Linked DNA regions of Homo sapiens: regions 2, 3 and 4 are each linked to region 1. Evidence: fine-mapped QTL for protein levels in blood plasma. A gene starts in region 1. Each other region holds a variant in brackets. All regions are shown on one strand. Distances are between the middles of the regions. Region 1 holds the start of NELL1 (neural EGFL like 1). Region 2 overlaps NELL1 (neural EGFL like 1). Region 3 overlaps NELL1 (neural EGFL like 1). Region 4 overlaps NELL1 (neural EGFL like 1).

What was found. PIP is the posterior inclusion probability: the model's chance that the variant is causal. The UK Biobank Pharma Proteomics Project read protein levels with antibody pairs (Olink). The fine-mapping took linkage between variants from a reference panel, not from the people measured, so its PIPs are less certain.
Region 2: its variant is fine-mapped to the plasma level of the NELL1 protein (UK Biobank, PIP above 0.99). The variant lies in the coding sequence of NELL1. If it changes the protein, the assay may bind it differently, which can mimic a change of level.
Region 3: its variant is fine-mapped to the plasma level of the NELL1 protein (UK Biobank, PIP above 0.99). The variant lies in the coding sequence of NELL1. If it changes the protein, the assay may bind it differently, which can mimic a change of level.
Region 4: its variant is fine-mapped to the plasma level of the NELL1 protein (UK Biobank, PIP 0.97).

The regions. Positions count from the first base shown.
Region 1 is chr11:20,665,405-20,673,514 of GRCh38, reverse strand. NELL1 (neural EGFL like 1) reads right to left here and starts at 3,929. Exons shown (of 20, transcript NM_006157.5): 1 at 3,737-3,929. The coding sequence starts at 3,791.
Region 2 is chr11:20,881,942-20,890,051 of GRCh38, reverse strand. NELL1 (neural EGFL like 1) reads right to left here. Exons shown (of 20, transcript NM_006157.5): 5 at 4,512-4,608. All of the region lies in intron 2 of LOC105376585 (a long non-coding RNA gene), which reads left to right. Among named protein-coding and RNA genes, the nearest start is that of NELL1, 220 kb to the right of the region's middle. The variant C/T (reference allele first, on the strand shown) is at 4,537.
Region 3 is chr11:20,843,383-20,851,492 of GRCh38, reverse strand. It overlaps NELL1 (neural EGFL like 1), which reads right to left. Exons shown (of 20, transcript NM_006157.5): 4 at 3,740-3,910. Among named protein-coding and RNA genes, the nearest start is that of NELL1, 180 kb to the right of the region's middle. The variant C/T (reference allele first, on the strand shown) is at 3,789.
Region 4 is chr11:20,930,016-20,938,125 of GRCh38, reverse strand. It overlaps NELL1 (neural EGFL like 1), which reads right to left. Exons shown (of 20, transcript NM_006157.5): 10 at 267-340. Among named protein-coding and RNA genes, the nearest start is that of NELL1, 260 kb to the right of the region's middle. The variant C/T (reference allele first, on the strand shown) is at 4,402.

The sequences.
Region 1 (8,110 bases):
AGACATAGGCTTTCCAGCAAATCCTCCTGGGTCTGGCTGACTTTAAATTTACTCCTGCTCATTGTCCATGGTGGAAGCTGTTTTCCTCTGGACCATGCAGACTAAAAAAATGCTCCAAGAGCTCATTTAACCACAGAATTTCACAACCACTTAATCAGGTTTGGGCCCCTGGGCACCTACGAAGGTCCTTAATACCCCAAAAGCAATTTTCTTGAAGAATATGCTCTATGCCTGTTCCAAGCTGGCCAGTATTTTCCATGATCCTTGGAGGCTGGGGGCTCATGTTCACAGTTCCATTATTCAATTCATAATTAATGATCCACCTGAGAGTTCCTTCCAAAAGAAAATCTCTTGGCCAGGCGCAGTGGCTCACACCTGTAATCTCAGCACTTTGGGAAGCCGAGGCGGGCAGATCACCTGAGGTCAGGAGTTCGAGACCAGCCTGACCAATATGAAGAAACTCCATCTCTACTAAAAATACAAAATTAGCTAGGCGTGGTGGTGCATGCCTGTAATCCCAGCTACTCGGGGGGGGGGGGGGGGGCTGAGGCAGGAGAATCACTTAAACCCAGGAGGCAGAGGTTGTGGTGAGCCGAGATCATGTCGCTGCACTCCAGCCTGGGCAACAAGAGCAAAACTCCATCTCAAAAAAAAAAAAAAAAATTCTCTCCTTTCCAGCAGGTGGCAGCAAAAGACATTCACTTGGTCAGTAGGGGCTTTGCAGGTGTAGGTACTCCCTTCACCCTCTGCCCTGGTGACCAAAACAAACTGGAAAGCAATGTGGGAATAATTATTGAGTTTTCAATTATTCACACTGCCAAAGCATTGGTGAAAACTCATAGAGATAGTGTGTTATTACTGCTATTATTGTAGCCTTCTAAATTTTCATTATTAGTGATGTACCTGAAAATCTCTGAATTATTTCTCAACCAGAAATAACAAGAACTGGAGAATGGCACCTCCCGTCTTGACTCCACTTTGCACTCTAAAACAAGTTCTCTGAACAAGGCAGATTTAAGCAGCTCCTCATGACACCTATCATTAGATCTTTTCATATGCAACTGTGTCTGCACTGCAGTCTTGCTTTAATTAAAATGTGCCTGATATCATCTACTCAGTTCCATTAAAAGCCGGTGATATCTGAGCAGCTCACTAAGTGAACCACATGTTTATTTCATCTAGGACTGTTAACAGCCCAGACAACAATTGTCCCACTTGACAAAGAAACTTTCAACGCAGCTGTTTGGATGCTGATAATCACAAGCCAGCCTTTGTTACCTAAGAAGAGGGTGGATGGATGATGTGGAAATGATTTCTGCACAGAATCAGAGGGCTGCCTCCAGAAAGCTACCGCTTATACCCTCTCAAGCTACAAGATACTTTAAGTGTACAAATTGAGAGGTAATTCCCCCGTCTCTCTGATTCTTCCGATAATGTGTGTAGAAGAAATATGCGGCCTCTAGTGTTCAAATAGTGCCAAGTGACATTGAGAACCCAAGCTCCCTAGGCAACAGCCACAACCAGTGGGTCAGATCCTTCCATGCTTCCCTGCCTTTGCTGAATCTGCTCCCTCTGCCAAGAATGCCTTCCCACTTTGTCCACCTGGAAAACTCCCTAGAAAGCCTTGAAGGTACATCTCTCAAATCCCTGACCACCACTCCTCCCTAGAATTAATTCAAACTGTCTCTCCTCCACATTTCCTTAATACAAACTTATACTCCTACCTCTCCACCACCCCCCCCATCAATCTGTAAAATTAAAATGCCTGCCAGTTTCTATCTAGATTCCCAGCTGAGCTTTAAGTTCCTAGAAGTCAAGGACTGTCATTTCCTCTTTGCATAAGAAATCCTGGCACCCAGCAAGACATCGTTTGTTGAATGAGTAAAGACATGAATGAATCTTCCCCTACAACGAAATTTTTACAAGATTTAAAGGGGATTGGAAGTGGAAAGAGGGAAAATACCTGTTCTTAAAGACCCCTTCCACAAGCAATGAACCCTGAAACACGTTCCATTCCGTGATAAGGGTACTTTGGCGACTTTTCAAAGGAGTAATGAGAACAAAGGATTTAGGCATATTCCGTAGTGATGTGCACTTAGGGATGTGAACTCACTAACGGGTTGCCCCCTCCCTACCTAGCTTCTTCCTGTCTGCGGTTCCTCTGTAAGATGTCCACGAGCACCAGACTCTCGCGCTCAGAGCCAGTAGCCCACGCTCTGCACTAGTCTTGCCTGTCCTGATCTTCCTGGGGTGCGCGCACTCCTTCAGCGTGTCCTGGTTTTAAAAGACTAACCCATCCGGATGGGCCTGAACTCAAGAAGCAACTATTCTAAGCTAGACTGAGCCTTGGCGTCTCCGCAGCCTGGGAAGCTCGGATAGAGGTAAGGAACGGAATGGGAGGTTTCTTTTGTCCCTTGAGAAATCCATATTCAACATTCTTAACCAGACGAAAGCCGCTGCCTGCTCAGTCCTGGGGAAGTGGGAAGGGCCCTCTGAAAGCTCCTAGACGCTAGATCTTCCAGCGGGCTAACTGCCAAAGAGGGGCGCCTGGGCGCAAGCGGAGGGAACTTTTGAGCCAACCAAGTGCAGACGCCCCTTCTTAGCCCTCTCCAGATGAACTTGCTCTTTGGCCTAGAGAGAAGGCCACGCCTCTAAAGAAGGAAATAAGGATGGTAAAGGGGGGAGAATAAAGGGAAAGGGAATGACCACACAGATTCTGGGGTGCAGCGCGTACGGAGGATGGCTGGGTAGGATTGCAAACCTCCGACACTCCCCCCAGTTGACAGGCCCTATTTTTGCCAATTTCCTACATCTCACCCCACCTCACCTCACCCCAGTCTCCCCGCATCTACTACTAGCTCTTTGAAGAAGGCGGCTGCAAGCCAGTCTCCGAACCCCAGGGGACTTTTGGGCAAGGGAGCCGGTGGAAGCAGAAGGAAGAAGATGCGCTGAGAGTCCTCACAACTGCGTCTCCGGAGGCAGAACGAAGTGGGGACTTCAGACAATCAAGCGTCATCCTTGCTCCCCCCTCCCCACACGGAACCCTGCGATTATGGCAAGAGAAAACTGGTTTGAGCTTGAGAAAATTTCCCCAGATTGTCTCCACTGCTCTATTTCCCTCAGATAATTGTTCGCCCAGCCCTTGGGAGCAAAGACAGGCGGAGGAGAATACTCCTGGAGTTCTCCTGGGTAGTCAGGAAGGCACAGGAGGAGATCGCGGGATCCCAGGGTTCTCCCGCAGCTCTCTGCCCTCGCCGCACCGCGCCCTCCCGGGCCCCGGCCGCGCCCGCCAGCCGGAAGCGCTCCCTCTGCGGGTGCGACTCCCGCAGCTACCCCTTCCCAGCCTGGCGGGGGTCGGCGAGAGTGGTTTCCACAGCACCTTACAAGTTCGGGAACTCGGGGCACGCGGGCCCGCCCTGCTGCGGGTTTCGACTCCCTGGGACGGAAAGCCGGTTACTAGCAGCAAGAGGGTGCGCCTACTCGGCCGCGCCCCTCACTCCTGCGCCCCTGAGGCCGGGTCCCCTGAGAAGGGGCACTCAACGGGGACATCTTCAAGCCCGTGAGTCCCTATTTTCACCCTGTCACTCCGAGCAGGGCAAAGAGATCCCAGGAACCGGTCCACGCTACCGCCGTTCCCCAGACCAGCGCAAAGCTCGGCTCCAGGTCTCCCCACGCCGCCGTGGTCTGTGGGCACCCCCATTTCCCGGATCCCTCTAACCGCCACAGTCATGCTTACCTGTCCTGGCAGTGCACACACAGAACCACACAACTAAAATCAAATCCATCGGCATCGCTCTCGAGGGTCCCCGCCTAGCAGGGGGCACCGAAGCTAGGTGGAAGCAAATGAGCCTGGATCCTGAGGCGCGCCTGGCTTGGAGCCGCCAAACTTGCTAGCGGGCGGCGGGGGAGGTGGCTCGGCAGCGCCGGGTGCTGCGCTCGCATATGCGCCCGGGAAGGCAGCCCCGGCCGCCCCGCCCCCAGCCCGCCCCCCACCGCTGGCGCGGCGGCGGCGGCGTGGGGCTCGGGGCCCGGCCCCCCGCTGCGGCTGCGTTCGTCTGGGAGCCCGGGCAGGAGCGCGGGGTTTGGCTACTGTGGCTTGTTGCGCTCCCCACTGGGGGCCGATTCCGTTCGCCTCCTTCGCCCGCAGAACTGCGAGGATCTGGACTGCAGGCGCCGCAGCCGCTATCACCCGGAGCACCGAAGTCGGAGTCCCAGGACCTGCGGCCGAAACGAGAGAGCGGGAGGCGCACGGCGCCCCCACGGCTTCACGCGCTCCAGCCCCTCCGAGCCGCAGTCGCCAATGTTGCCCTCTTTACTTCCGCACCGCGGTGGGGGCTGCCGAAGTTGCCACAGTTCATCCCCGCCGAGTCGAAAAGCCGCCGAGCCCTCGCGGGTGGGTATTTTTCCTCGGGGGAACCCAGACCGAGGCGGCGCCACCGAGCGCGCACGGACCCCCTCGGAAAACAATTACTCGGGATTCGCTCTGTCAACTGGGTGGGGAGGGACCTGAGGGGGATGATGGCTGAGTCCCTGCTCACCGCCTGTACCTTCTGTCTCCTCTCTCCTGTTGAACCCCTATGACTGAGTACTCTCTTTGTGGGTGCAGGAAGAGGGCGCTGAGGTGGGGGTGCAGAAAAGGGGTCCTCGAGGCGGAGCGAGCTGTGGTTGGGGTTTGGGAAGTCTATTTGCAAACCTTCTCATTCTGCAGGGCAGATGCTGCCACATAGGGGTAATTCCTAACCATCTTTTTTTCTTTCTTGCGTGATTTTCTTAATGGTATTATCAAAAGCCCACTCTTCTTTCATAGTCACATTTTGGCCCCATGTGCAATTCCTCCGGGACCTCCACCTTCTTTTCCCTCTCCCACCACAACATTCTCTGGAGAGAAAAGCTGGGCTGGGCTTTGTTTTCTACTTGCCGGCAAGAAGAGAATGGGTCCTCTCCCCTCTATGCGACCCTTTCAGGACCTGACCTTCCCTATGAAGATCCCCCAAATTTAAGACTTCTGTCCCACTTCCTATTTGTCCTACTAACACCTAGGAACGTTATTTATAACTGGATATGTAGAGTCATGAAATCTGAAATGACAGCCTCTGATTTATACCAAATGAACTCCACTTAGCTTGCTCAGTCTTCCCACTCTCTCTGAAGCCCCCGCTCCCCCTCACCAGCAGTACTCCTTTGATATTCACAACAGGGATCCCAGAGGAGTCCAAGGAAACCTCAGAACAGCCGTCCCTCGTTTCCTGGAAACCAATTCCAACGTTTCAGAATCCTCTTCACTAATAAGAACGTGCCCTTCTCACTTGCACCCACTTTCACTTCCTATATCCTTAACCCCTACACAACTTTGACCCCAGGAGCCCCAGTGAAGTTCACCAAATCAGCGCAGCTTATTAAGAGAGAAGGCTTTACTAGCATGCTGTTCTGGTCTCTGCCCTATTTTTCTGGATATTTCTGTGTGCAAGCCACTGTCCCATTTGGCCCTTTATGTTGTGGTCCTTTGGCAGATGAAAAAGAAAGTGAACAAGCAGGTAAATTCCAGCTCAAGAAGTCTACTGCACAATCCAGAAGTTGAGCTGAATGATTAAGAGGTAAACTGATGTCAGCTGACTCCAACTCAGATTCGGCTAAGACCCAAAGGAAATCTGTCTGCCTTGACTCTGTATTTTCACTAACAGAGTCCACGTGTTTTTCCTTCCACCCGGAGCGTGTTGCATTTAAAGCTAACATTAAAATCACACATCTTGAAGAGAATAGGATTTCCCAAGTCTTGTTGGGCCTTGTGGACAAGGACACCATACACCATGTTGTATTATAAGAGCCATTTCCTGTCTCTCCTCTGCAGTCTTTAAGTACACCTCAGCAGGAACAGCCTTGAGTTGCTTTGGACTGTTGTTTCCAAGGCCCTTTTATTGATTTCAGAAAGCCCAGAATCCTTAAAAGTACAGTGACCCCAGCAAGGGGAAAAGGTGGTCTGGGTAAGATCTTCAGAGCTCTCTATCTTTAAAGTCTCTGTGTAATTAGCTGGTCCTGTGGGATGGGACTTTTAGCTTGTTCCATTAAAAAATAAAGCAAGACATATGTTCTGTCATAGCTTTGCAGCATAACATCCATTAACAGTAACAAGAGTTAATCTCAACAAGGTCATAAATCTTTTCTAGATAACTAAGTACTGCAATCTCCTCCTATAAGTGCAACCCTTGAGTGGGGATTTTGAGTGTGTAGGTCTGTTAAGCTAAGGTGACCTTCATAGAATGGGCCCAGCAAGTTTCTCTAGTGACAATGAAGGGACACATGGCTATGTATGTACTTGGTGGTGGAATGTTACAGTGAGACCTGTGTTCGGTGGAAGCCACACTGAAACATCTTACCTGATGCCAGATCCCAAGTCCACCCTCCCCTTCAGGATGGCCTACCTCCATGGGTTCTTCAGGAGCCAGTAGTTGTCTTTGATTATCCCTCTGCCTCTTCTTCCTGACCTCTAAATGTTGGAGAGCCCCAGGACTCACTCCTCAACCCTTCCCTTCCCGCCACACTCCCTCCCTATTAAGCTCATCCCACCTCATGGATTTAAATATCTGTGCAGGGATGACTCTCAAATATGCATCTCTATCCCCAGCCTCTATTTTGAACCCCAGGCCTACATCTCTAACTACCTATTAGACATCTTGAATATAATATGGCCACATCATCAAAATTAAAAACATTTGCACTTCAAAGTACACCATCAATGAAGTAAAAAAAACAACCGATGGAAAAGTATCTTTGCAAGACATATCTGATTGGAACTTGTATCTACTAAAAAACTATTACAACTAGATAATACAAGACAATAAAAGGTCCAATTTGCAAATAGGCAAAAGATCTGAATAGATATTACTCCAAAGTATATATACAAGCGGCCAATAAAGACATGAGAAGATGTTCGACATCATTAGCCATCTGGGAAATGCAAGTCAAAACTACAGTGAGATATCACTTCACATCCACTAGGACGGCTAGAATAAAATAGATAATAAATGTTGGTGAGGATGTGGAGAAATTGGAACTCATATACTGCTAGTTAGAATGTAAAGTGTTCTTTAAACAGTTAAACATAGAGTTGCTGTACAGCAACTCTATCCCTAATATCCACACAAGGTAAATGAAAACATATGTCCATATACTAACTTGTACATAAATGTTTAGAGCATTATTCAAAATAGCCAAAAAGTAGGAACAACCTAAATGTCCATTGACAAATAAGTGGATAAATAAAATGTGGTATGCCTATATAATGGAATATTATTCAGCAATAAAAAGACATGAAGCATTGACACATACTACAACATTGACCTTGAAAACCTCACACTAAGTGAAAAAAAGCCTGTCACAAGGGACCATATATTATACAATTTCATTTCTATGAAAAGTCAGGAGGCAAATATATAGAGACAAAACATCTGATTAGTGGTTGTCTAGGGCTTGGGGCCAGGGAGGTAGGATTAGGGGGTAATGGCTCAAAAGTGTAGGGGCTATTTTTGAGGTAATGAAAAGGCTCTAAATTTGATTGTGGTGATGGATGTAAAACTCTCACATATATTCACAATATAGTAAAAACCATTGAATTGTATACTTTAAATGGGTGGATTGTATGGTATGTGAATTATATCTCAAGCTGTTTTTTAAAATACTTTAATGATCATGACAAAAAATTGTAATATGGCCAACTAAGGACTTTTGACTTTTCCCTTGTCTTAAATTTCCACTGCTGACTTCTACGGACATGGCATGAGCCTTCACCAAGTGCTCCAGCTACATAACCCAGGGTCATCCTTGACTTGCTTGCCCTTAGCCCCCACACACAAGGCATCAAGCCCTGTCAGTATACCTTAAAGAAAAATCCCCAGTCAAATTTCTCTTCTCACCAGGTCTCCTCCCACCTTCCTCCAACCCATCATTATCTCTCCCATAGCCTACAGCTATAGACTCTCAATGCTTCTCTCTGCCTCCATTCTTGCCCCGTATAATTCAGTCACCTCCACCTTCAGCAGTCATAGTCTGTGTTTTGTAACATGTATCATATCACACTCCCTTGCTCAAAACTCCTCCTGGAGTTTTCCATCAT
Region 2 (8,110 bases), 220 kb before region 1:
CACTCAGTTGGGTGGCACAGGGAGCAGGACCTGTTTAATGAGGCATTTTGGCCATTGGTGGAGCGGGTGTGCTTTGCTGGGGGGAAACCTACTCGTCTAGACTGCCCGGATTCTTCAGAATTACCAAGACAAGAGGCTAAGTCTGCTGGTCCACACAGACTGTGGCCACCTCTCCCGCTAGGGGCTCAGGCCCAGGGAAATCCGAATTCTGTCCCTGAGTCTCCGGCTGGAGTTACTGGAAATCTGCCTCCCTTGGCTGCAGGGAGGGGGCTCCCCTTTCCCGTGTGGCTCTCAGATGGGCCGTCGCACCGCACTGTTCCTCCTTCTCTCCATGAGTCACGCCAGCCTTCTAGTCAATTTTGATGACAGAACCCGGATATTTTGGTTGATGGTGAAGGATTCCATTGTCAATATTTTTAATATTATTTTTCTAAAATTAAGCATTATTATATTTTAATCAAACAAGGATAATGGCAATCATTCAGAATAATAATCACTGAGATTTGTGCATACTGTCAACATGCATTTGCTCTCCAATTCTTCTTGCACTGTATGTCTTCCTTCCAGGAAGTTTTTTAAATGAAGATCTATTGGTTATAAACTGAGAGTTTCATTTCTCTACTAATGTCTTTATGTCACACTCATTCTCAAATGACAATTAAGCTTGGTATATACTACTACATTTGAAAGTTATTTTCTCTCAAAACTTGGAAAACACTTTTTCTACTGTCTTTTGACTTCTGCTTTTACTGTTTAAAAACCAGCTGTTCAGTTTGTTATCCTTTTGTGAAAAATTTGTGTTTTGTCACTGGCTATTTTTAAGATCTTCTCTGTGTCTTTGGAGTTCTGCTATTCTGCCAGTATATCTAAGTGTGGCTGTCTATTTATCTTGATTTGTATAATAGGTTGCTGATGTGGCCAAAAAAAATTCTTCCCTCCTTGCATCCATATCCTTGCAATGTGATATCATGGAGCAGCCCTTCAAGAGATGAAGTCTATTTATTTACATTTTGACTCTGGAGTTGGCCATATGACTTGCTTTGGGCAATAAAACATTAGCAAATGTGATCAAGCAAACAAAGCCTTGAAAATATTAGTACTTTAGGGATTGCACTCTTCCGATACTTGGAATCCCAGGGATGACATGTAAATAAGCTGAGCTAGGCCATTGGAGATGAGAGACCATGTGAGGACAACTGAGGAACAAGAGTCAACAGCCAGCCAACCCCCAGAGAGGTGAAGAGGCTCTCAGATCATCCTGCCACCTGCTAGCATGCCAATTAACCACAGACATGGGAGACAGCCTAACAAGTATCAGCTTAGCCAGGTCAAAGCAGAAAAAAATTGGTTTTTGAGCTAAATAAAATGGCTGTTCTGATGCCTCTATGTTTTCTATGATTTCTATGTGAAATCAACAACATATACTTTTATTTCATTGTTCTTTCAGTAATGAGAATTAATGTCTTTTATTAAGTTTAGAAAATTCTTACCCGTTATACTTATAATAGTGCCCATAACCTTTATCTCTGTTTACTATCTGGAATTTTCAAATATATATGCATATATAGACATAATATATTCTTTATTATCTTCCTTAATTTTTAAATATATGTATATTATAATAATATACATATCTAAGAAGCTATCTATCTCAGCTATCTAAGAAGCCACTTAGAAAACATAGAGGCATCAGAACAGCCATTTTATATAGATATGCATACATATTCACACATATTAAACAGATACGTAAACTTTTTTTATATACATGTATCTGTTCTATATTTTAACCTCCTTCCTATTTTCTTCTCTTTATCTCTGAAGCACTACTATTAGTTTAATTATTTTAACAATATTTTCCATTTCACAAATGCTCTTCCTACCTGTGTCTAATCTGTTTAGCAGGTTCACTGAGGTTTTTGGTTTTTGTTTCTTTTTTAACTTCAACAACTGTATCTTTCATTTTTGGAAGTGCTTTTTAGTTCAACTATCTCTGGGCCTATTTATTATCTCTAGTCATCATACATTCTTTATTATTTTGATTCTTCAAACATTTTAAACAGAAGTTTTTTAAAAAATTAAAAAAAAATTCTTTACCTGCTAATTTCATTTTCTGTAGCCCTGTGAGGACTAACTGAGCATTTTTTTGTTTCTTTCCACTGTCATTCGTGATGGCTTTAGAGCTCCTATTTTATGGACTTAATCTGTGGGCATCCTTTGAGGTCTACATCAAAAGTGACTTTCTCCAAAGATAATTTGTATTTTCTTCATCAGGACTCCCAAGGTACCTAATCCAGGGCCACTTTAATATACTTTATTGAGCTTCATGGGTAAAGTAAATCTGGGTGTCAAGTCTGCAACCCTTCAAGTGCTGTGGTTTACTAGTTCTCTGGGAAGTATTATTTTTTCTCATCTGGAGATGAGATGCAGACAGGATAGTTTCTGGATTGCCTCCTTCTGCTAGATAGTGGACTGGCTTTACCTTAAAAATTTCCATTCCAACACTCAGTCACGCATGGGATCTAAGTAATTTCTCCCATCCCACACAGACGGTTGAAATTTAAAGCTCTAACTGAAATTTTCATAGATTGCTGGTGGGAATGCAAAAACTGGCACAGCTGCTTTGAAAAATGGTTTAGCAGTTGCCTGTGAATTTAAACATACACTTAATATACAACCCAGTAAGCCCACACCTACACACTTACCTAAGTGAAATCAAAACCGCTGTTCACACAAAAACCTGTATGCAAATGTTTATAGTGGTTCTATTCATAATTGTTCCAAACTGGAAATAACCCAGATGTCCATCAACTGAAGAATGGACAAACAAAATATGATACATTCATACAACAGAACTGGAATACTACTCAGCAATAGAAAACAATGAACCACTGATACACACAACAACTTGGTGAATCTCAACATAGAAACTTATGTAAATACACACACACACATAAATGATTCCATTTATATAACATTCTGGTAAAGACAAAACTACAGGGTCAGAAAACAGACCAGTGGTTGCTAAAGGCTTCGGGTGAGGAGAAGGGTTTAATACAAAGGGGGATGGAAATTTTTGGAGATAAAGAAATGGTTCTTTATCTCAATTACAATGATGATTATAATACAGTGTAGATTTTCCAAAACTTGTGACACTGTACATTAAATGGAATGAATTTTCCTGTATGTAAATTACATCTTACTTTTTTTTGGTATTATTTTATTATACTTTAAGTTCTAGGGTACATGTGCACAACGTGCAGGTTTGTTACCTTGGTATACATGTGCCATGTTGGTTTGCTGCACCCATCAACCCGTCATTTACATTAGTTATTTCTCCTAATGCTATCTCTCTCCCAGCCCCAGTGTATGATGTTCCCCACCCTGTGTCCATGTGTTCTCATTGTTCAACTCCCACCTGTGAGTGAGAACATGCGGAATTACACCTTAATTTTTTAAAAATAAAAAAGAAGGAACCTAAGGCTCTAAGTTCTGGTACTGATACCCCTCTGGCTTTCTCTCCCCTCCATATATTTGGTCCCCAAGGAATTCCTTTCGTATAAGTACAATGCTGAATTTTAAAATATTTTTGTGGTATTTTATCGAGCATTATAGTCATTTTGAAGCAGAAGGATTTTTAGAATATCTAGTCTGCCATATTGCCAGAAGCAAAAGTGTGTCATTCTTTCAAAGAACAAGACTGTCTTAAAATTTCATGGTATTTTTAAGTTTTTAAATTTATTTTATCACTGTATCCTTATGTTTCTGTGAAGTATAATAATGCAGTTTTTTTAAAAAAAATTTTGGATGTAGGGGGTACACACGCAGGTTTGTTACATGGGTATACTGCATGATGTTGAGGTTTAGGCTATGGATGGTCCAGTCACTCAGGTAGTGAGCATGGTACCAAATAGTTTTTCAGCCCATGGCTCCCTCTCTCCCTCCCACCTCTAGTAGTCCACAGTGTCTACTGCTCCCATCTTTGTGTCCATGTGTATTCAGTGTTTAGCTCCCACTTATAAGTGAGAATATGCAGTATTTGGTTTTCTGTTCCCAGTAATGCAATTAAACCAAAGCTCAAGGAAGCAGAGATGTATTTTTCATATCTAGACATCTACTCTAAACTGAATTAACATATAATCTGAGAAGGGAAACCAGTTTGAAGATTATCGTAAATCCTTCAGAATTGGGAGGTCAACATTTTGAGGATCATTTGCCTTCTGGATCATCCATCCCTGGCAGCAGAGTGAACTGGATAACCTTGGGCAAGTCACTTAACTCTCTGCCTGGTTTCAAAGCACCTACTTCACAAATTACTGTGACAAGTAAACCAGTTTATTCATGTCAAGCACATAAAAAAGCATGTGTCACAAAGTAAGTGTTCAATAAACATTAGTAGCTATTATGCCATGCCCTTCCCACTAATGTAATTATAAACACGGCTCCAATAAATAACACAGAAAACTGAGCATCGCCTATATATATACTTCAATAAAAAGAACGTTAGTGCTTACTTTGAATAAGCCATGCTTTTGGTTG[C/T]GCTGGCCAAGCCATAAATTGATTCCTGGGGGAAGGTTGGTATCTGGAGGGTCTATCACACGCTCATAAATCCTGTAAAGGCAAAGAACACAGTTACTAATAGAGAGGCTCAAAGCAGAACCAAAAGGTGCATATGCTGTTTGAAGTATGCATGCCATTAGCTGCTGTATGAAGAGAAGCCAATATGTGGCACACTTTACATGACAGATAACATGAATGTAGAGATCTAACACTTGGACACATCATCTGGGCCCCTCCTGCTTTTGTCTCCCTTTTGGCAGGGGAGGGAGGAAGAAGGTGACATTTTTGAGTGTCCACTCTGAGCAATGAACTGCCCACAAACTCTGTGGGGAAAGTGGTTTGATACGCATGTTATAGGTGCGAAAGCTCAGATTTAGGAATCATAAATGAGTTAACCAAGTGAAGACAGCAGTGAGTAGTAGAGTTGGGATAAGAACTCTTATCTGCCTGGCTCTAAAGCCACTGTACTTTCCTTTGCACCCTGCTATTCTCCGACTTCGGTTTCTTTAGGTCCTACTCATTTCTGCAGTAACCTGAGAGAACCCTTTAAACAAGTAGATTGCAGCTGCCTAGATGATCATGTTTTTAGTCTACAGAACTACACAGCTTAAGTCATCGTCCAACCAACAAATATTTATTGAACACTTTTTATGCTCTAAGCTCCACACTAAGCAACAGAAAATAGAGCAAGAAACCAGACACACAAGGTCCCACTCTCATGGAGGAAAAGTAAGATAAAAATTCTATATATGAAGAAAATCCTCATCTGATCCATACAGGCACATAACTAATACAGAAGATGTCAGAGCCCTACCTAGGATCTTTGAAGTTTCTAGCAGAGCCTACCGAACAATTAATGTCTCAGTTATTCCATCCTACCAAGGTCCGGTTAGTTGGTCCCAAATCTTTTTATTCGTGCCCTCTTTAGAAATAGTCCCTGCAACCACCCACTGATCACGAGCTTCCAACCTCACCCCGGGCAAGTACCTCTCAGCATTGGATGCTCAGAAGATTCTGGGTGGGATGAAACACAGTGATCTGTAAACGAGAACTATGTCCATTTCTTGCTTTCCTGAGTCCTCGCTGAGGACTGAGCAACGGCTGCGGAATCATTCCTAGGTGTGTCCAGAGGTACGGACAGCTCATCACTCCTCCCTGCTGTGATGGAGCTGACTGCCTCCTGCCAGAGGGCGATGTATTCCTCCGGTGGTTCTCACAAGGAAAGTGCAGAAGAACTGAAAGACTGTCCACTTGTGTCAAGGAAAGTGAGTGATGGTGAGCCTGCTGCAGTTGGGAGCTGTCGCGCTGCAGTCTTATATCTTAGCTGCACAGTCCATTACTCTACTATTCCCCACTGGAAACCTGCTGTTTCCTAATACATGCAAGGTTTTCAGCTGGCAAAGCTCCAAGCACATCAGGTCTTTCTCTACTAATTATCCTTCCATTATAAGTGGACACTCAAAACATAATCAGGAAAAAATAAGTTTTCCTAAAAAGAAGACAGAATGTGTTTTCTTTACAGGAATCTAACCTTTTTTGTATCTTAGAATGAACGATTTTAGACGAAACTATTTGTCAAAACTGCCTTAACACAGGAGCATGATACACACTTCCTTTAAAATTTTTTCTCCTAACATTAGTGGAAAAACTAGACACAAGGCAAATTTACAACTTAAGAGATATGCATAAGTTATAGATCAGCTTGAAAGAATTTACTACAGTCATTAAGTGTGATGAATATGCAAGTTATGAAACAAGGGAAAGTATATACAAAATATTTTTCACTGGAAAAAAGGGAATGCAAAATTATTTATGCCCTATAGAGATAATGAGGCACAAATGATGTTCAATGTTGGTAAATACCAAAAGAGGCCAGGGAGAAATGGAAATCACTGTATTTGGGTGACGAGGCAGAAGCATGATTTCTATAAGGCTATTTTACTAATAAATTGAAAATGTTGAACCATTTACCTTAAGCTCAATTTTAACAACTTTGCCTCTGTCACAGTTAGACGAGCTTTCGATTCAAAAGTTTATTTTATGTATTCAATAGGCTAGAAGATAAGCTCCAATGAGCAGAGTAGGCCCTTAATCAATATTTATTAAATGCATGAATTAATGAAGGAAAAAACAATCAAAGAGATTAACTTCCTATCCTACCTTATCTTGCAAAGCATAATAGCTCCGTGTGCCTTAGAAATAGTTGAAGAAGCAAACATCTGAGGCCCACTATCACCAGCTAAAGCAGGGTGACCCAGGGCACATGTGTCAAAGTGGTGTTCTCATTTCCCATGTCATACAGCCCCCACAAAGACACCATCCTGATGCCAAGGAAGCTCTGCCGGATGCTGCCTTCCTGGCAGCCCTGCCAAATCTGTTCCAAGAGGCAGTCTGCATTAGGGAATTCTGTGCAGCAGGTGGAATCAACAAACTGGATACAGATGTATCAACATGAAGAGAGTTTAAAAACAGTATTTTTTTTAAAAAGAAAACTTGCTGAGGAGGGAGGAGGAAATCTAATCATGAAGAAACATCAGATAAACCTCAATTGAAAGACAGTCCACAAAATAACTGCTTGTGGTCTTTAAAATGTCAATGTCATGAAAAATAAAGAAAGGCTGAACAACAGTTGGAGATTAAAAGAGAGACTTTAAAAAGACATAAAAGCTATACGCAAGATGGGATCCTGGATTAGATGCTAGGGCAGGGGGAAATAATCCCATAAAGGACATTATTGGGAAAATTGGGAAAATTTGAATAAGATCTGTAAATTATGTAATAGTATTTTATTGATACTCAATTTCCTGATTTTGCTAACTGGGCAGTATATACTTAAGTGAAAGTCTTGTTCTTAGGAAATAGGCACTGAAGTATTTAGGGGTAGAGGGTCATGATGTTTACAACTTAACTCTCAAAGGGTTCAAAATAACAATACTGTTTGTATATATAAGTATACACATCTATGAATACACGCTTTCTCTTCCTTCCAAATAATGCAGAATCTGGGCAAATATGATTGTTCCTTGTATCACTCCTATAAGTTTTCTGTGAGCTTAAAGTTATATTAACATTAACAGTTTAAAAAATAGAGAAAAAACCAACAAGGTCCATAATGTATGTAAACTAAAAATTCACACATGCAAAACAATGTTATCGATTAGCTAAGGATACGCACAGAATTTTCCTATCACAGGCCTGGTGGGAATGGTGAGGCAAGAAAAAAGTGAATGAATGAAACAAGAAATGTGCACGGCACAGACTAATGCTGATAACACAAACTAAGAAATTGAATTATCACATTCCTACACGTACCCCTATAGAAGGGGAGCTATACATGCCAGCCAAAGTAAAATCAGAATCTTAGCACAAAGGCTGCTGGTCCCTGAGGGACAGTTTGGGTGGACTGGATCATGTAAAAAGGCAGGTAGGGCACAGTGATCTGTCACTTAAATCTGGCGTCACCCAAGTCAACTAAAATGAAAGTCACAGCTAATATAGTGAACTCCTTGCTCTCCAGTGTGGTAAGGAAACTGAGCTTTCTGATATATAGGGT
Region 3 (8,110 bases), 180 kb before region 1:
CAACTCTTAATATAAAAGGTAGCCGGAGAAAAACCCAAGGCAATGGAGATAATCAGTCTCCCCACCCAACTGAATGGTTCCTTCTATGTTTCTAGCTTGAGGTAATCTGCTATCCACACATCAGGAACTTCTAACTAAGCCCAGCTAAACAGCTGAAACAAGGAGAAAAGTGTCTCCGTAGCAAGCAGAAAGTGTTGAACTACCAACTAAAATAGCGTTTGCTTTTCTTGTGACAATTTGTACAATTAGGTCTGAAAAAGCTGTTCCTCAATTCTGACCTAAAAAAATAATGTGCGAAATCCTGCCACATTAATATTCCTCAGAGCAATGGAATTATCTGGGAAATTTCTTCTCGATTTTAGAGTTCTCATGGTCCCTGAACCTTCTGTAGTATCTCTCCCTTGGGAAGACTCCCTGGTGTGGTTGTGACCTTGTCTTTGGCAGTACATGTCATTAGCACACTATGGAGGTGACCTGGAGGGTGGGTTAGACTAAGGTTTTGGAGATAGTTTCAGACTCAAAGTTTGGGTTATATGCTTATTATATTATGTGATTGACACCTAGTTATTTATCTTGAGCTTTTCTATTTCCAAATATGCAAAATGCATCTAGTAAAACTGTCCCCATATGGTTATCCTAAGGAATACTATTACTAGAACATTACCTGGCCTATAGTAGAGGCTCAATAAATGTATATCCCTTCTCCAGCACCAAAGTAAAGGGTTCCATCAATTAGATTTCACATCTTTCCAAGCAGCTCCCAGGATTAGCAATATAAGACATGTGGCAGGGAAATATTAGAAAGGAACAAACTGCTCACATTGAATCTTGGCCTTCCCTCATGTACCAAATAAAGTGTCAATGGTCCCCACTATTGGGCTAAATAGCTTAGTAGTAGCTAGATGCAGACACTCATAGGTCAAACTTGGGTCCAAATCCTGGTGCTGCCATTTATTAGTAGCAGGGTTACAGACAAATATATAACCTCAGTTTCCTCATCTTAAAAAGAGGAAAAACTAATAGAATGAGTATGGAATAAGTTAATCTATGTAAAGTACTCAGCACTGTGCCTAGCACAATCAACATCAAATGTTATCTAACATCATCTCCTTTCATACTCTAATCAGCAGAACACTACTGGGTGAGAGGTTGAGAAAAACTCTAAGAGTAACAGGGATCAAAAAATAAGAATCACAAAGTAGTAATGGATAGCTGAAATTCACTCTCTGTGAGGGTGGCTGAGACTAAAAGTGATAGAACCAGCATCTTGATATATGGGACAGAGCTTCTGCTACTGTAAAGTTGGCAAGTTCTGGCTGGGAAGAAACTTGTGAAGAAGGTAAAGTTTGTTTCGTGCATTAGACACTACCCTCTCCTTAATCCTTTTCTCCTTCTTACCCTCCTTCAGGTAACTGGTCTTCCACGACTTCATTTATTTGTTGTAGCCCAGCCTCTCCACCAAATTCCTTCCCCTCTTTCTAAACCAGTGGTTTGGAAATGCCAGTCCATTCACCAAGGGTAGACTGCCCGCATGGAACCTATATGGAGGGCTTGTTAAAAATATTGCTTCTCAGGTTCCGCCCTCGGGGAATCTAATCCAGTAGGTCAGAGGCAAAGCCTGGTTATCCATTTTTTTAATATGTTCCCCAGGTAATTCTTAGGTATAGTCAGATTTTGGAACCATGTTTCTAGCCTTTTCCTACATGAAAATCAAAATTTACTTTTCTTATGACCAGTCTTTGGGTCCATTTTTTCTCCTGACCTACCTGAAAAATGTATTTGTGTTTAGAGTCTACGAATCATTAACTAGCAGCAACTTCATAAGTTTTCCCTCCAAGATCTTACATAAAGGACATGTTATGCCACAAGCCAAAGTATGAAAAATATTAAGAAAACAGAAGGAATATTTGGAATACCCTCAGTCAATTCTTTATAAATGGCAATGACTCTAAAGAATACTGTGAACTACAGATCTCCTATCCTCTTCTCACTCTCCTGGTAGAGAGGTCATGGTTTCCATGAAGGACATACAGAGTATGAAAGTTTGAAGGCAGGGTCAAAGAGCTGCCATTGATATGCAGAGTAAATAACAACAACCACCACAAATGTAGACTGAGCACTGAAGGCCAAGCACCACCTAAGAACTGCTCCAGAGAGAAGAATGTCAGGAAACAGAGTAAAACTCTTAGAAGGAAGAAACAAAAAACTGCATAGCAAGAAAACAGCAGTATCTCCAGGACTCTTAAGTTGGAAATTACGAAACTAGGGTTTTGTGGCCTCTTTCTGTCCTGTGGCTTAGAAGGACAAGCAGGGCTCTTCCTCTGCAATCCCATTTAGACAGCATGTGGGTGGTAGGTCACAGTGGGTCATAGGAGTGTTGCCGGACAGGCCACTTTAATTCTAGAGAATTGAAGGGGGCAATGAGCTCTTGAAAGTGAAAATGGATATAGCAGCTAAGCATTGGCTTTATCCAGGCTGCCCAGCCCCAGTCTGCAGTGTACAAAGGAGCTAGTGGTTTCTATGGAAACTCTGTCCAGACATATTTATTATATCTGGTGGAAACCACAATTCTTCAGAAGTCTAAAAAGCACCTTAAATAGGTCATATCAAAATGGACCAAGACTCACCTCAAGATGGCAAACCTTCCCTTGAGCCTGACAACAGTTCCCTGCCCTTCCAACTCTTCTAAAAGAGACTGCAGAGCTAGAGTGGCAGGCATATTCAAGCATCTCCTCATGAGAAATGCGGTCTGAAGCTGACTGACCTTGGAATATCTCTCCTCTTGATGGTTTTTGGAAGGGAGGCTATCCCCAATATGCCTGTTCTTTATCCTGGGTTCAAGGGAGCAAGCCTTGTGTGGCTGAAAAGTCATTTTAACTTTGATGGCATCATTAATGAGAATCAACAATGCATGGGCACTGCTCAGAATGCAAAAAAAAACTCTGTAATTGGACTCGGGTCACTATCCATAAGGATCTTCAGTGGGTTATGGAGAGATAAAAACTTTCCCCTTGAACACCATTATCCAGCTGTCCAGCCATAAATGATCCAATAGAAACCAATGGACTCCCTCATTCTTCAATTTTCATTAAACCTGGCTCCAGTGACAGACAAGGGAGACAACATTTCCATCCCACCCCAACCCAAAACCTCCTGTGAAACCCCCTGGTCCCACCATCCCCTGACAAGCTGGAAGGCTCATTCCTCTGGAGAAAATACCTGGCATCAATTCCAAAAGGCTCAGAGAACAGCCTCTTTAAGAAGCCTCCATTTGGAAAAGATATTTAAGCAAAGGTGAGCTTGATGAAGTGAAATAGAATTAGCTGCTTCAGTGGCACAGGCTTCTCAGATTCATTCCAGGGTAGACAAGCTTATTCGCTTCCCAGTGGAACGAACTCAACAACAATACATCACCGTTAACTGTGATCACAGCTCCATGGAATTCCAGCCAGTGCCTGGAGCACACTGAGGTGCACTTACTATTTCCCAATCTGCAATCAACCTTTTGTACATTTGCTCCTAATCACGGGATACAGTTTCATCTTAATGAACTGTTTTCTTATCATATTACAGTTGGTCATTTCAGCATGCCTAAGGTCCCATTTGGTAGGTTAAATTACAATTAGGGTCCCTTGGTGTTTGTTTCCTGGCAAGTCTTGAAGGAATTTGATATTTTTTCCCCTTTTCCATTGCTTGATTTCAAGGGCAGAATCAGCAACACTCAAAGACAAAGAAATACCTGTTACAGTCGACATGGAGCAGGAGATGAGAGGCGCTAACTGACAGTG[C/T]AACCTTGTGCCATTGTCCATCTGCCATGCGGTAAGGAAGTGCCTCTGTCCTTGGCTTCCCATTGTGTATGTAGTGATACCGAATCTCATCCCTCAGGCCACTGCTCTCCAGTTCAAAATAGCTGTATGTAAAGGAACAAACATTTGTTTTATTTTAGTTCTGGATATCACAGCCATCATCAATCCCTCAACCCCTTACTACCAGGTCTCTCACAATCTAAAATTAGCTAAACATGGCACAAAGAGCCAAGACCTCAAGTCAATTCACTGTAGGACACCCAATGAATCTATTGTCTGAGAACCCTCGTGGCAACATCTTGAGCCTCTGAAACAGAGATCAATTGGTCCACCATGAGGTAACAAGCCACAGCTAATTAGCAAAACTCAGTGCAGTGTTTCTTAAATACTTCAAAGTACAAATCAGAACCCTCATTCCATGAATGTCTAAAACAGGCCATTCATGTGGAATGGATCTATTGATGGTTATTTTCAGAACTATTATCTTTACCTTTTCAAGAATTAAAGGGAAATGGAAGTCATGTTGGACATCAGGGATTGAAATACATTGTCAGAATGAAAAGATTAGTCTTTTTTCTTCTCTGTAGACAAAAAGATATAATTGAATAACAATTCCTAGATAATGAGTAGGGGAGAAAAGGTTGAAGCTAGTCACATAGGAATTAGTATTTCAAATTATCAGAGAATGAAATATGCAATTAAGTTTTTTCTTTTCCAGGATTATGATCCTGTTTTTCAAACCCATAAGAAATTCTTAGCCTTACCACTGTGGTCTGCACTTCAGTCATAAAATGCTACAAGCAACTTTGGGACACTCCTCAGGCACACAACAGGGCTAGTACTTTCACAGGTGCCAAAACTATTTTGTTTCCTATGCCTCTCTTCTGAAATGTGTCATTGTCATCAACGTTGGGCCTGATCTCACTGCCAGGGCTTGCACTAGGTATTTCACATATACTAATTTATCACTCAAAAAACCTGAGACTGGTATTATCTTTTTTAAAAAACTTAAAAACTGAGATTAAGGATTAAACATACCCAAACCAGACTTAAACTTAGATCTAAATTTGACAGTGTATGCACTTTCTGCCAGTTTGTTGCCCATCCCAGAGGCATGATGACAAAGTGGTGAGGATAGCCTCACCAGGCACTAACTCCAACAACTCATTCATATGGTCAACTCCAGAGCGATTAGCCTAGACAGGTAACTAGGCTTAACCCCTAGATTTGGAAGGGCCTGCTGCTTCTATTCTAATCCACTGAGCTGGCTAACCCCACAAGCCAAAGGGTATTTAATCTAAAAGACAAAATGCATCTTCTATGAGGAATGAAATGAATATATCAGGAAACTCAGCGTCTATTGTGCCTGAATCCCAAAAGTCATGCCAAAGAACAAATACATATTTCTTGCTCATCTTTCACAGATCTTTCCAAAGTAAACAGTGAAGGGCAAGCAGAGAGTCAAGACCAGCCTCTGACCCACCTCATTTGCACCAGTACAAAGAATCATGCCCAAGGTCATAAACTAAAAGAGGTTATTTATACCATAGCAGCCAGCTTCTAGGCCCAGGTTCATACTTATTAGTAATAATTTATGTAATACATACTTTATAAGACTGCACAAAAGGAAATGCTTTAACAAAGAAGACATTTATTTTAAGGGAATTCTCCAGTTTCTTCTAAGTTGTTAGAACACTGAAGAATCAAACAATCGGAGAACTTAGAGGTCAAGAAGATGTTACAGACTATTGGCCATTCATTAATTCATTCAATATGTCTTTACTGAACACATAATGAAAAACTAAAAAGGGGTTTAAAATATATATCCCATGTCTGAAGGTGCTTTGTGAACTAGTGAAGAAGGAAGTAAAATATGTCCCTCCCCACGGCCCCCCCAAAAAAAGGGTGAAAAATGGCCTAAAAGGAACAAATGAGGAGGCAAGAAAAGTCATTTAATGAATGATTGTCATGTGCCAGGAATATGGCAAGTGCTTTCATAGACATCATCTTTTTAATTTCTTTAAGGTAGATTTCATTATCCCTATTTTATAGATGATCAAAGATATTAAGTATCTTGCCCAAGACCATTTAGCACCTGTATAGAAATGCACCACGAGCTTATATTTGAGATCCTACCAGGATTCACACATCATGAGAAATCTCTCAATTACTTTACTTTGACCAATAAGCAATTACTTGGGGAAGGGACATGACCTTGAAAGGGCTTCAATCAATGACAATTAGAAATACTCACAGAAGTCACCTGCTGGAATCATTAAAGAGGGAGGCAAATACATTTAACCAGATTTCATCATTATTCTTGGGGTTGTGGCCTCATTGAGCAAGTGTTCAATGTATTATAAACAGATCTCTTAAAGATCACTTTATAAAGCACTGGAGTCAGTGATTACATTGGGGTAATCACAAATATATAGCTAGGAGAAAAGAAGTCTGTCCTAATGTCAGGCAAATGATACTTTTATCTTAGACTAAAGTTTCTGGCCACATCCTGCACATATTCAAAAAGTGCTGCATCTCATGCAACTTGGATGAAAATCAAGATGATATATTTTTGAAAACACATGTCAGATAACTGCTGAAGCAGCCTTAGCAATAATAAAAACACTGGATGGCTAAGTGACATCTGGATAAAATTCTTTCATGAGGGCTAGGAGGAAAATAAGGCAATATTTCCAGGCAGTAATGCTCTACAAATAAAGATGTGAGGCAACTCTGAGCAGAAAGTCATTTGGCCTGATGGGATTTGGCTGTAGCCTGGAGGGAAGACTCATGTTTTCTAGTAGAACCTTGTGACTCAGGGTGGTCTGTAGAACACCAATAGCAGCATCACCTGTGGAAATTCAGATTATTGGGATAACCCCAAGGTCTACTGCAGCAGAATCTGTATTCCAACAAAACTCCCAGATGATTCATGTTCTATGTTTACATCTGTGTTTAAGAAGCACTATAGTAGTATGCCAGGTGTTGCCTTACTTCCTGGCCAGCTGGTCTTGATGAAGGGAGCAGAAGTCTGACGCTACGAGCAAGTGAATAGGAGCCACGTGGCGCTGCCAGGTAGAAGGAGGACACTGGAAGTGACAGTAGGCTGATCTAGTGAGCAATCTACCCCTCACCAGTCCTCATTCTTCAGGACTCAGGTGTATTGGGGTCTTTTCAAGAGTCTCTGGGGAGGGCAGCTGTATAAATGATAAAATTATAAGCCAGATTTTGTAAGCAAAAGATTTTGCAAGCCCTTAGCCTTGGACCTCAGCCAAGTGTGTTGTTCCAACAAACTGCCTTCGCTCCCAGAAAAGTCTGCTCATCCTGCAAATATCGGAAAACAGCAGTGATATTCCCTCTTCTGTTTCAAGCCAAGCTTCCCTGGCTCCTTCCTTTATACTCCCATCTCCATCTAAACTATGAGCCCCTCCTGGACAAGGATTCTGCCTTCTTCCTCTTTGCAGCCTTCCCCATGTTGGTCACCATGCGCTAGGCATGGTCAAATGAATCAATTTTCCACTTAAATACAGCATCCAGGAATAAAGGCACTTGTACAGATGTGGTCTAATGCAAAGTACAGTGACACTATCACCTGCTTTGCTCTGAGCTGTGCACAACTACGCCTACACTGACTTTCCCATCAACTAACACCCCAAGACCTTGAACACAAAATGTTATGAAGGCAAATCTTTTCCAACCTGTATTTACTTAGCTGAATTCTGTAAGCCCAGGCCTTTGCTTAAGTGCAAGGTAGACCCTACCCAGAATCAACATGCATAATTCCTCAAAGGTCCACCCTTGGGTATCAGGTACAATCAGTATTATCATGAACTGAAGTCGATTTTCATGAGACTATCTGAATTCCTTAGTAGATCTGGAAATAAATTCAGGAACAATAATTCTAAAAATATAGGTAGATAAAGATCAATCAAGTTATTTTTATTAAAATTTTTATCATTTTCCCCAAAATTGATACCAAAGTATCCTATTTTGAGATTACATACATAATATTAAAATATATAATATAATTTTATATTTATATATTTATAATAAAATTTTATATTCATATATTTATATAAAATTTTATATTTATATAATATATAAAATATATTATATTTTATATATAGAACAGAAGGGCTAGATATATTCAAAATGTTAAAGTGATTATTGCTGGATGAATTAGGTGGCTTCTGTGTACAAGAGTGAAAACAGTAAAAGTTAATTTTAGATAGCATCCAGCACTAAATCACAAGTAAAGGTAAAACATTTCTTAGAAAAGGTCTCTTTTCCAGTTATTCTACAAG
Region 4 (8,110 bases), 260 kb before region 1:
TAATAACAGCTGTTAGTTCTTTCTCCTCTCACATCCTTGCCTTAATAGCTTCTTCCAAGGCTACCTGATCCACAGCTGACCACAAGCTAACCACATAAATGGCCTGGCTGGATCCTCGCCATCATGTAATCCAACCCACCGCAGAGAGTTCCACCCCTCGGGGCCCTATCCAGGCCAATATGCCCCACTCAAGAACCTCATCTAAAGCCCACACATCTATCTATTCATTTTCCAGAAGTGATAGGGACCATAAAATTAACACTTACTCGGCATTCCCGACAGCTCTTGGTTAAAATCCGCTGGCCTTCTGCAAGAACTTTTCCTCCATAGATACATTTTGCTGTAATAAAACATAAAAATGGGTCAGACAGTCCTGCTGTGCCACAAAATGACCTCAGAGGTACCTTCTAACTCCAATAGATTCCACAGAAACCTAGATTCTCTGCTTCTGAGCAATACAAATCTCTTTGTCTAAAGTGAAAGGAATTGTGTGGAGGATAACCCTTAAATCTCCCAGGCAGACCTCATCATGATTGTGTTTGCCTGGCCTTTACAGCCAGGATATACAATTATTTCAATGTTACAGTTGCCAAAGGAACTAGAGAATGAACTGATGTAGTAAGAAGCTAAAACAAGAAAGAACTGGTGGCAATCGCTGTGGAGTACAGTTAGCAGTAGCTTTGATTCAGACACTCCAGCTAAAATGAACTGGGTGAAAGGGGACTCACATATATTCCATTCCTCAGAACCTCAGCCACAATGGAGAAGGACACCATTTCTTCTTCCTTGTGATCATGGGAGTGGGCGTGAGAAATACACATGTGAGACAAGTGAGAAATACAAGGAAAGCCTGTAAAGTGCTAGATCAATGCACTAGAGAGAATGCCTTTGGAAAGGTGAGTTCAAAAGGCTGCCAGGAAGGGCAGCGGGGGTGAACTTGTAGAAAATTTCAAAGAGAAACATAAACGGAGCTCCTACCACTCAATTTAGATTGCACTGAAACTCATTTCTTGACTTAACTGGCTGACTCACTTTTAAGCAAGTACAGCATATGTCAATTTGATATGATCCTAATATAACACCACCAAATTCTCCATCCACTTCAACAGGAAAAAAAGAAGCAAGTATCTGGTCACTCCCTCTCCTGCCCTGATGAGGACCCTTCTAGCCCCAGCTCTAGGAGGAACAGAAGCAATAATACGCACTCTAAGAGATCTCACCCACTAATTCGGTGTTGGTCTTATAGAACCACCTCACCTTTCAGAGCCTCTATATCTGTATCTGCTAAAAATGGGCTGATTAAATCTGGTGGTTTACTAGTTATAAAACCCTCTGATTCTCACGGGATGCTCAGTTATTCTTCATTCAAATAATATTCTAGTGTTACTAAAGGGCAGGCAACATGCTAACTGGTAATATAGTGTTGCAAGAACCAAAGCTTTCTTCTCATGGAGCTTACAATCAGGGAAATAGACAGTAATTACATAATAACATCAGTGAATGTATAATTACTAAGTGAGGCAAGTGCTGTGTTTGCAGATAAAGAACCTAGACCCCCTTCGATGTTGAGGGGCAAGATCTGAAAGGCAAAGAGGATGACCAGGTGAGAAATGGGGCTTTCATTCCTCCCTTCCAATAAAACAAACAGTAGTCATCTAGTCCATTTTAGCCACAGGAAGAAGAAAGTCCAGGGACATGCCTAAGTTAACGTCATACCCTGTAGTGGATGCTGTGGTACATGGAGATCCACTTCCATGAGCAAAGGATACATTCTTACAACTGCTGTGACAGTTGGCAACTAACGGCTCTCCCCTGAATGGAGATCTAAGACTTGTATAGGGCTGTAGAGAGCCACCTTGCCCAAGGTGAAGTTCTCTTGATGGGTGAACATGGTACACAGTCCTGGCCCCCTTTCTCCAACTGAGGACAACTCCGAAGGGCCATTCCAGCTCCAAAGCTCCCTGTAGGAATGAGTTCGGCATTTGCTGTAACCACTGCAGCTTAACTTCTCCTTCTGCCCAATTCTTCTTCCTTCACCACCTCATTCCTATCCCAGAATTGATCCTGAGAGCACTTCCTAATAAAGTACATGTAAATCTCTATGTCAAAGTCTGTTTCCCCTCAGAACCTGACCTGCAGCAACCTCACTCCCCACCCAAATATGTTCCACTCCTGTATTCTCCTCTCAGTGAATGGCAATGGCATGGGTATCCATCCCAGCTCCCACACCCTAGTGCCTGGCAACCTTCTAACCTCTCCCTCTTACACAACTCCATGTCCAATCAGTGTCCAAATCCTATCAATGTCCCCTTCTTAAGTTTCTCAAGTCAACCTCCTCCTCTCCATTCCTCACCCTCTGCCCCCAGACACTGTCTTTGTTCAGGCTGTCGTCATCCCTCTTCTTCAGTACCACCACAACTTCCTAGCTCTCTCATGTTCTAGTCTCAATCTTCACCAGTCCTTCCCCATAAAACAGTCAGACACATATTTTTTAAGTGCAAACATGAGGCCCTGCTTGAAATCAGGGTCCCTAAAGCTCTCAGAATAAAGTCCAAAATCCTTAGTTCAGCAAACAAGGCCATTCATGAGGCTTCTTATCTCCCAAGGTTCACAGCCCACCATTTCCCGTGATTTCATTCACCCTACAAAACATCCACACCTCCACATATGTTCTAGCCATGCTTTATCTCTCACTTCCGGGCCTTACATATACCGTTCTCTTTCTCAGAAACACGTGCAGAGCACCCCATCCACCTTCCACTGGCAGCCTCCCACCCTATACACCCATGAGCTTCCGCTTAGGGCTGACTTCCCTCAGAACTTGTTCTTACCCTTTAACACTGGTTAATCGTCCTCACTTTTTTATTCTATTGTACTTTGAACCTAATCCCAACAGAATATATATCACATGACATCCTAATTTCCCATTTAATTGTACACCCCACCATGTCCCTGCTGCTAATTGCAACCCCCATGAGGGTAGGGAAAATGTCTATAATTTTATCTCCAGCCCAAAGCCCCATGCCTTAGGATTTATTGAGAGTAATAATAATTTTCCAATTAATGAGCCTCTAGTAGGTGGCAAAAAACAGTCAAATTTCTTGATCCACAGATAAGAGTTATTTCTGGCATTCAATACAACTTCAAACATTAGAAGTAGAGACCAAAAAAATGGAGAATTAATATAATTGTCTGGATAGGTCCTTTCCTCCCTTCAGTAAACAAAAATCTATCCCTGATCATCTTTTATGCCTCAATTTTGTAGATAAATCAGTTGACCATGACTCGTTGGTCCTAATGAGAGCTAGATTTCCCAGTGTACTTGCATGGAGAGACCACACCTCCAAGGTCTGGAATTCCTGTCTAATAAATTCCCACACTCCCAAATGTGCCTGCTGCCAACTTGGCAAGGCAGCTTGTTCCAAAGTGACAGTTCTGCTAAGTGCACTGTTGTCAAATCTGCCATCTGCTTCTTGGCCCAAGCTGTGAAGCGAAGAAATAGACATTTTTTCTTCCTTTGCCCCTTGCCACTCCCACAATGGTATTAACACATTTGATCACCTGCCTTAAGGCACTTGTCCAAATCCTCTCTTCCCCTTTGACAGGCTCATCCCAAAACTCCTAATCTGGAGATAAAAATGCCTCATTGTTTACATTCACACCACACATGGAGACACATCCACCCCTCGAATCCACCAGTCTCTTATAAAAATTAAATGTCCACTGAACTTTATGTACTCACATAGCAGGGTGCTTTGGTGCTGGTGAATGAGATCAACATATTACTGCACGCCTCAACCATCTGCAATTTGGCACTAGTGCAGAATGTATGTATCTATGAAATTATCTTAGGATGACTTTCAGGATCACCACTGGAGGTCACAAGAATTTCTCCTGCTTTCTCATACTCATCCTCACTTCTCTGACAACAGCCCTCCTTCCCTGCCACTGCATTCCTATGCCTAATATCAGCCCTTATTATCCAACCTCTTGATCTATAGCCAAAAGGCTTATTTTTTATGTCTGAGGAAATTCAAGCATAAGGTGAGTCAGGCTCTGGTGCGTTTGGCTGGGGCATTTGGGACTCCATTCGAACATCTTTCAGGGTGATTAGAAATGTAAATGGATACCTAAAGCTCTTCATATCACACTGGTGACATGCAAACTAGAATATTTCACAGTGCCCAAACACAAAATTGAAACCTAGCACCAACACACACTTCTCCATTATGTCAGAAACAAAATGTACTGAGGATATAAAGAGTTATGCAGCTGTATCTTTTTGCACCGACAGACACCTGGCCCTTCAATTTTGACCTTGATTTTTCTGGTGCAATGATTGGACAATTTTGCCATTTGGGTGCACACTGAATAAACAATTGACAAGTACAGCTTGACATC[C/T]CTGTCAGATGTGGATACAAGGTTTCCCTATCTTTATTTAGGTATTTGTACCCTGCACACACTCCAGCCATCCCTTGGTACTCAGCGGCCTAGAATGTCAAAATCAGCACACTGTTTTACACTTTAAAGGAGAGTGGCAGATCAGAGAGACTGAACACCCAAAGATCCTTCCTCCCTCAGTGAGCTAATTCACAGCCTTGGCTTCAGATACCACCTCTATGAGCAAGACACCCACATCAAACTAGTTGTACCTCAGGCATCTCTAACTCAAACATGTCAAACGGAATGTATTGCTCCCCATACTGCTTTCTCCACCTGTCTTATTTCTGTTAATCACACCGTGAGTCTCCCACAGGCTCTTGTTCAAAACCTGGCAATTTCTCCCTTACAGACGCTCTGTCCCTGATCCATTTGTCTCATGCAAAACAATACCTGTGGAGTATCTCTAATGTGCCAGCTCCTTTGGCTGTCACCCACATCCTTCCCTTCCTTTGCATCTTCCCAGGCTGTGCCTGCCTGCCAGCCTCAACACCTCCACCTGGAATATGCCCAAGTCCCATATCCCCCACCACCTCCAGCTCTCTTGATGCAGTAGCCTTTCTAAAAGCACATCTTTGATTATGCCACAACTCTGCATTAAAACCTTGATTGCAGTACCAAAACCAACACTGGTTTATTTCCATGATTTTGTGTATGCAATTCCCTCTGGCAGTTATGTTCTTACCTACTTTGTACACTTGGAAAACTCCTCTTCATTTGTCAATACCCCGCTCAGCTGTTACCTATGACGTTTTCCTAACACACACATACATATGTACATTTCAGATGGAGTTAATCACTCCCTTCTCTGTGTGACTTCTGTGTCTTCCATAGTGTTCATGTGAAATAATATTCTTTATTGTAACAGAGATCTCTCTGGAGAACAATGGTTAGAGCCAACAGGTCAAGAGCATCCCACTGGGTTCTGAAGCCAGACTGCCAGGGCTTTATTTTGGCTCCCCCAAAACTGGGAGACCTTGGACAAGTTACTTCTCCTCTCTGTTTCACCTCCTCATGTGTAAAATGGGGATAATAGCGGACCCTACCACTTAAAGTTGTTGGAAGAATTAAATGAATACATATAAAATGGTTAAACACAGTGCCTGTCAGAGTAAATGATCCATACGTGTCCACTGTTGCCCCCAGAACTGACAAAGTGTTTGGCAGAAGGACCTCGGTAGGGATTACTGAATGGCTTCATTGGGATACAATCTTCATCATCCATCCGCAACTCACGTTTGCAGCTCTATTTCAACCTCTCACCTACATAAATCCTGTGTTATCATCAAACACACTATTCCCCTTTCCCTCTTTCACTCTTATTCCTTCACACATACTGTTTTGCATAGAAGAAATATTTTTTTCTCCATCTTCCTCCCTCCTTCCTATCTCTGGTAGATCTCAAATCTGTCTACCAAAATAATACAGATTTCAGGATGTTGATGCCTGGAGATTGTGATTATGTAGGTCTAGGTGGAGCCCTGGAAACCTCCAAGTTTAAGAAGTTCACCAAAGGATTTTAATGTGCAAATAGGTATATTAAATATGCCTTGAATAGTGCAGACACCCAACAAGTGTTTGAGGAATGAAACTCCCTCACTATTTTCGGTACCGCCATGGATGCTTAGATAAATTTCTTCCCTATTTCCAAACAGACGCCCTCATCTGTAAGTGCTGCAGTTCCCAAGGCCAAGAGAAGTCCGTGAACACTCAGTGAGTGAGCAGACAACACAATCTGCTTTTACATATTGGCTCATTTTGCCTTTGTCATAGCCCTACCTTTACCTGGTGTCCCTAGAATACTACCCCACCTAAAGTCAGAGAGAAGCTTGGGAATTTTTCTTTAAATTCACATATAAGAAATTTACTTCAGGCAGCTCCACAAAAAAAATGAAAAAAAATCAAAATAAGGAACCAAACCAAGGAAAAACATGGTATTCAGGAAACAGTAGTTTCACTTATATCCCTCACAACATTAAATGTGAATGGATTAAATGATCCAATCCAAACAATACAATCCAGACTGTCAGACTGGATTAAAAAACAAGATTTGACTATAAGTTATTCATACAAGATACAATTTTTTCTTTGTCTTTTTTTATATTTTATTATTATTTTTTAACTGACAAAAGGTATGCATATTTACGGTCTACAGCATGATATTTTGAAATACGTAGGCACTGTGGTATGGCTAAGAACTAACTAACATATGCATTACCTCACATACTTATATTTAAAAGGGACAACCAAAGTAAATATACTCTACCATGTTTCTGATGTGAAGACATTGGAAACATCTAGAAATTCCACTGATTAGTGTTAGAACTCTGCTCTAGCAATCCTCATTCTCTTCTTCTCCACCCCACTGCTTAACCCACAAAAGTCAACTTCTAGAAGGTTCAAAATATTTAACTTGGCTCCATGTCCTCCGGGAAGCATCCCAGGCCTTCCCCCGGTATTCTCCCCCTCCCTCCCAGGCCATTCTTCTGTACTCCAACACATGCCTAATGTTAGTGCACTTACAGTTCCAGACACTGTAAACCACGTCTCTACCTTGAAAGTGAGCTCCTCTAAAGCAGGGAAGGATCCCTCATCATTATTCCAGGCATCAGTACTCAGTAATCACCTAATGCATATTTCTATTAAAAACTAGTGAGAAATGAAAGCCCTCCAGCCCAGAAGTTCTCAACCTTTTAATTACCAGAGGTGCCTTGTATCATTTCTTTTTAAGTTTGTCTAGAATAGTGTTTTAATAATTTATTTGTATTCCCACTTTATTAAACTCTGAACACATCAAACTACCAATCAGAGCTGTGAGAAAATTAGTGCTACCTAACTAAATTGCTATGAATTCCATGCAAAGGGAAAAAAAAAAAAAAAACTGATGTTTTAGTTAGTGTGTGTATCAACATTTTAATAAAATTGAGTTATTTTCTGAAATAATTTTAAAAACCTAAAACTATCAAACAAATTAGCACAAAGAAAAATGACCGTCCCACACACGTCTAGTGAGAGGGCAATTTAACTGTATGTATCCAGGGCCTTGAAAATGTTCATCTTTGGCCCAGTAATTCTGGCCTGAAGAATTCTATTTTCAGGAAATATAAAATACAAAAATATACAAAAATGTGTTTTCTATACAAAACATGTTATTTAAGCGTGCTTTATAATAGTGAAAAGTGGGAAACAATCTAGATATCAATGACTTGGGACTGGTTAAAAAAAAGTTATGCAACAGCCAAACAATGGGAAACAATGAAGCTCATGAAAATGACATTTATGCAGAAGTTTTTAAAACATAATAATATATTTAAGTGACAATGGCAAGTTAACAGACTAGAATAAAAAATTGCCCACACAATACAACCTCAACTGCACACAAAATGTAATTTTTCTTAAAAAAAGGACACATCCACTAAAATTTCAAGAGTGTTTCTAAGTGGAGCTATTATGGGTGAACTTTCCATCTTGATCTTTATGATTCTCTGTGTTTTCAAAATGTTAAGCCAAAAGCACAGTGCTTTTATAATTTTAAAAAAACGTCAAAAAGTTAAGACACAAACCTGCCGAAGGACTCATTACTTCCATGTCCAAACAACAACTTTCAAGAGATGGCATTCAGAGATCTATGCAGGAACTCTAAATAATAGACTAAAACATCTCACATTTT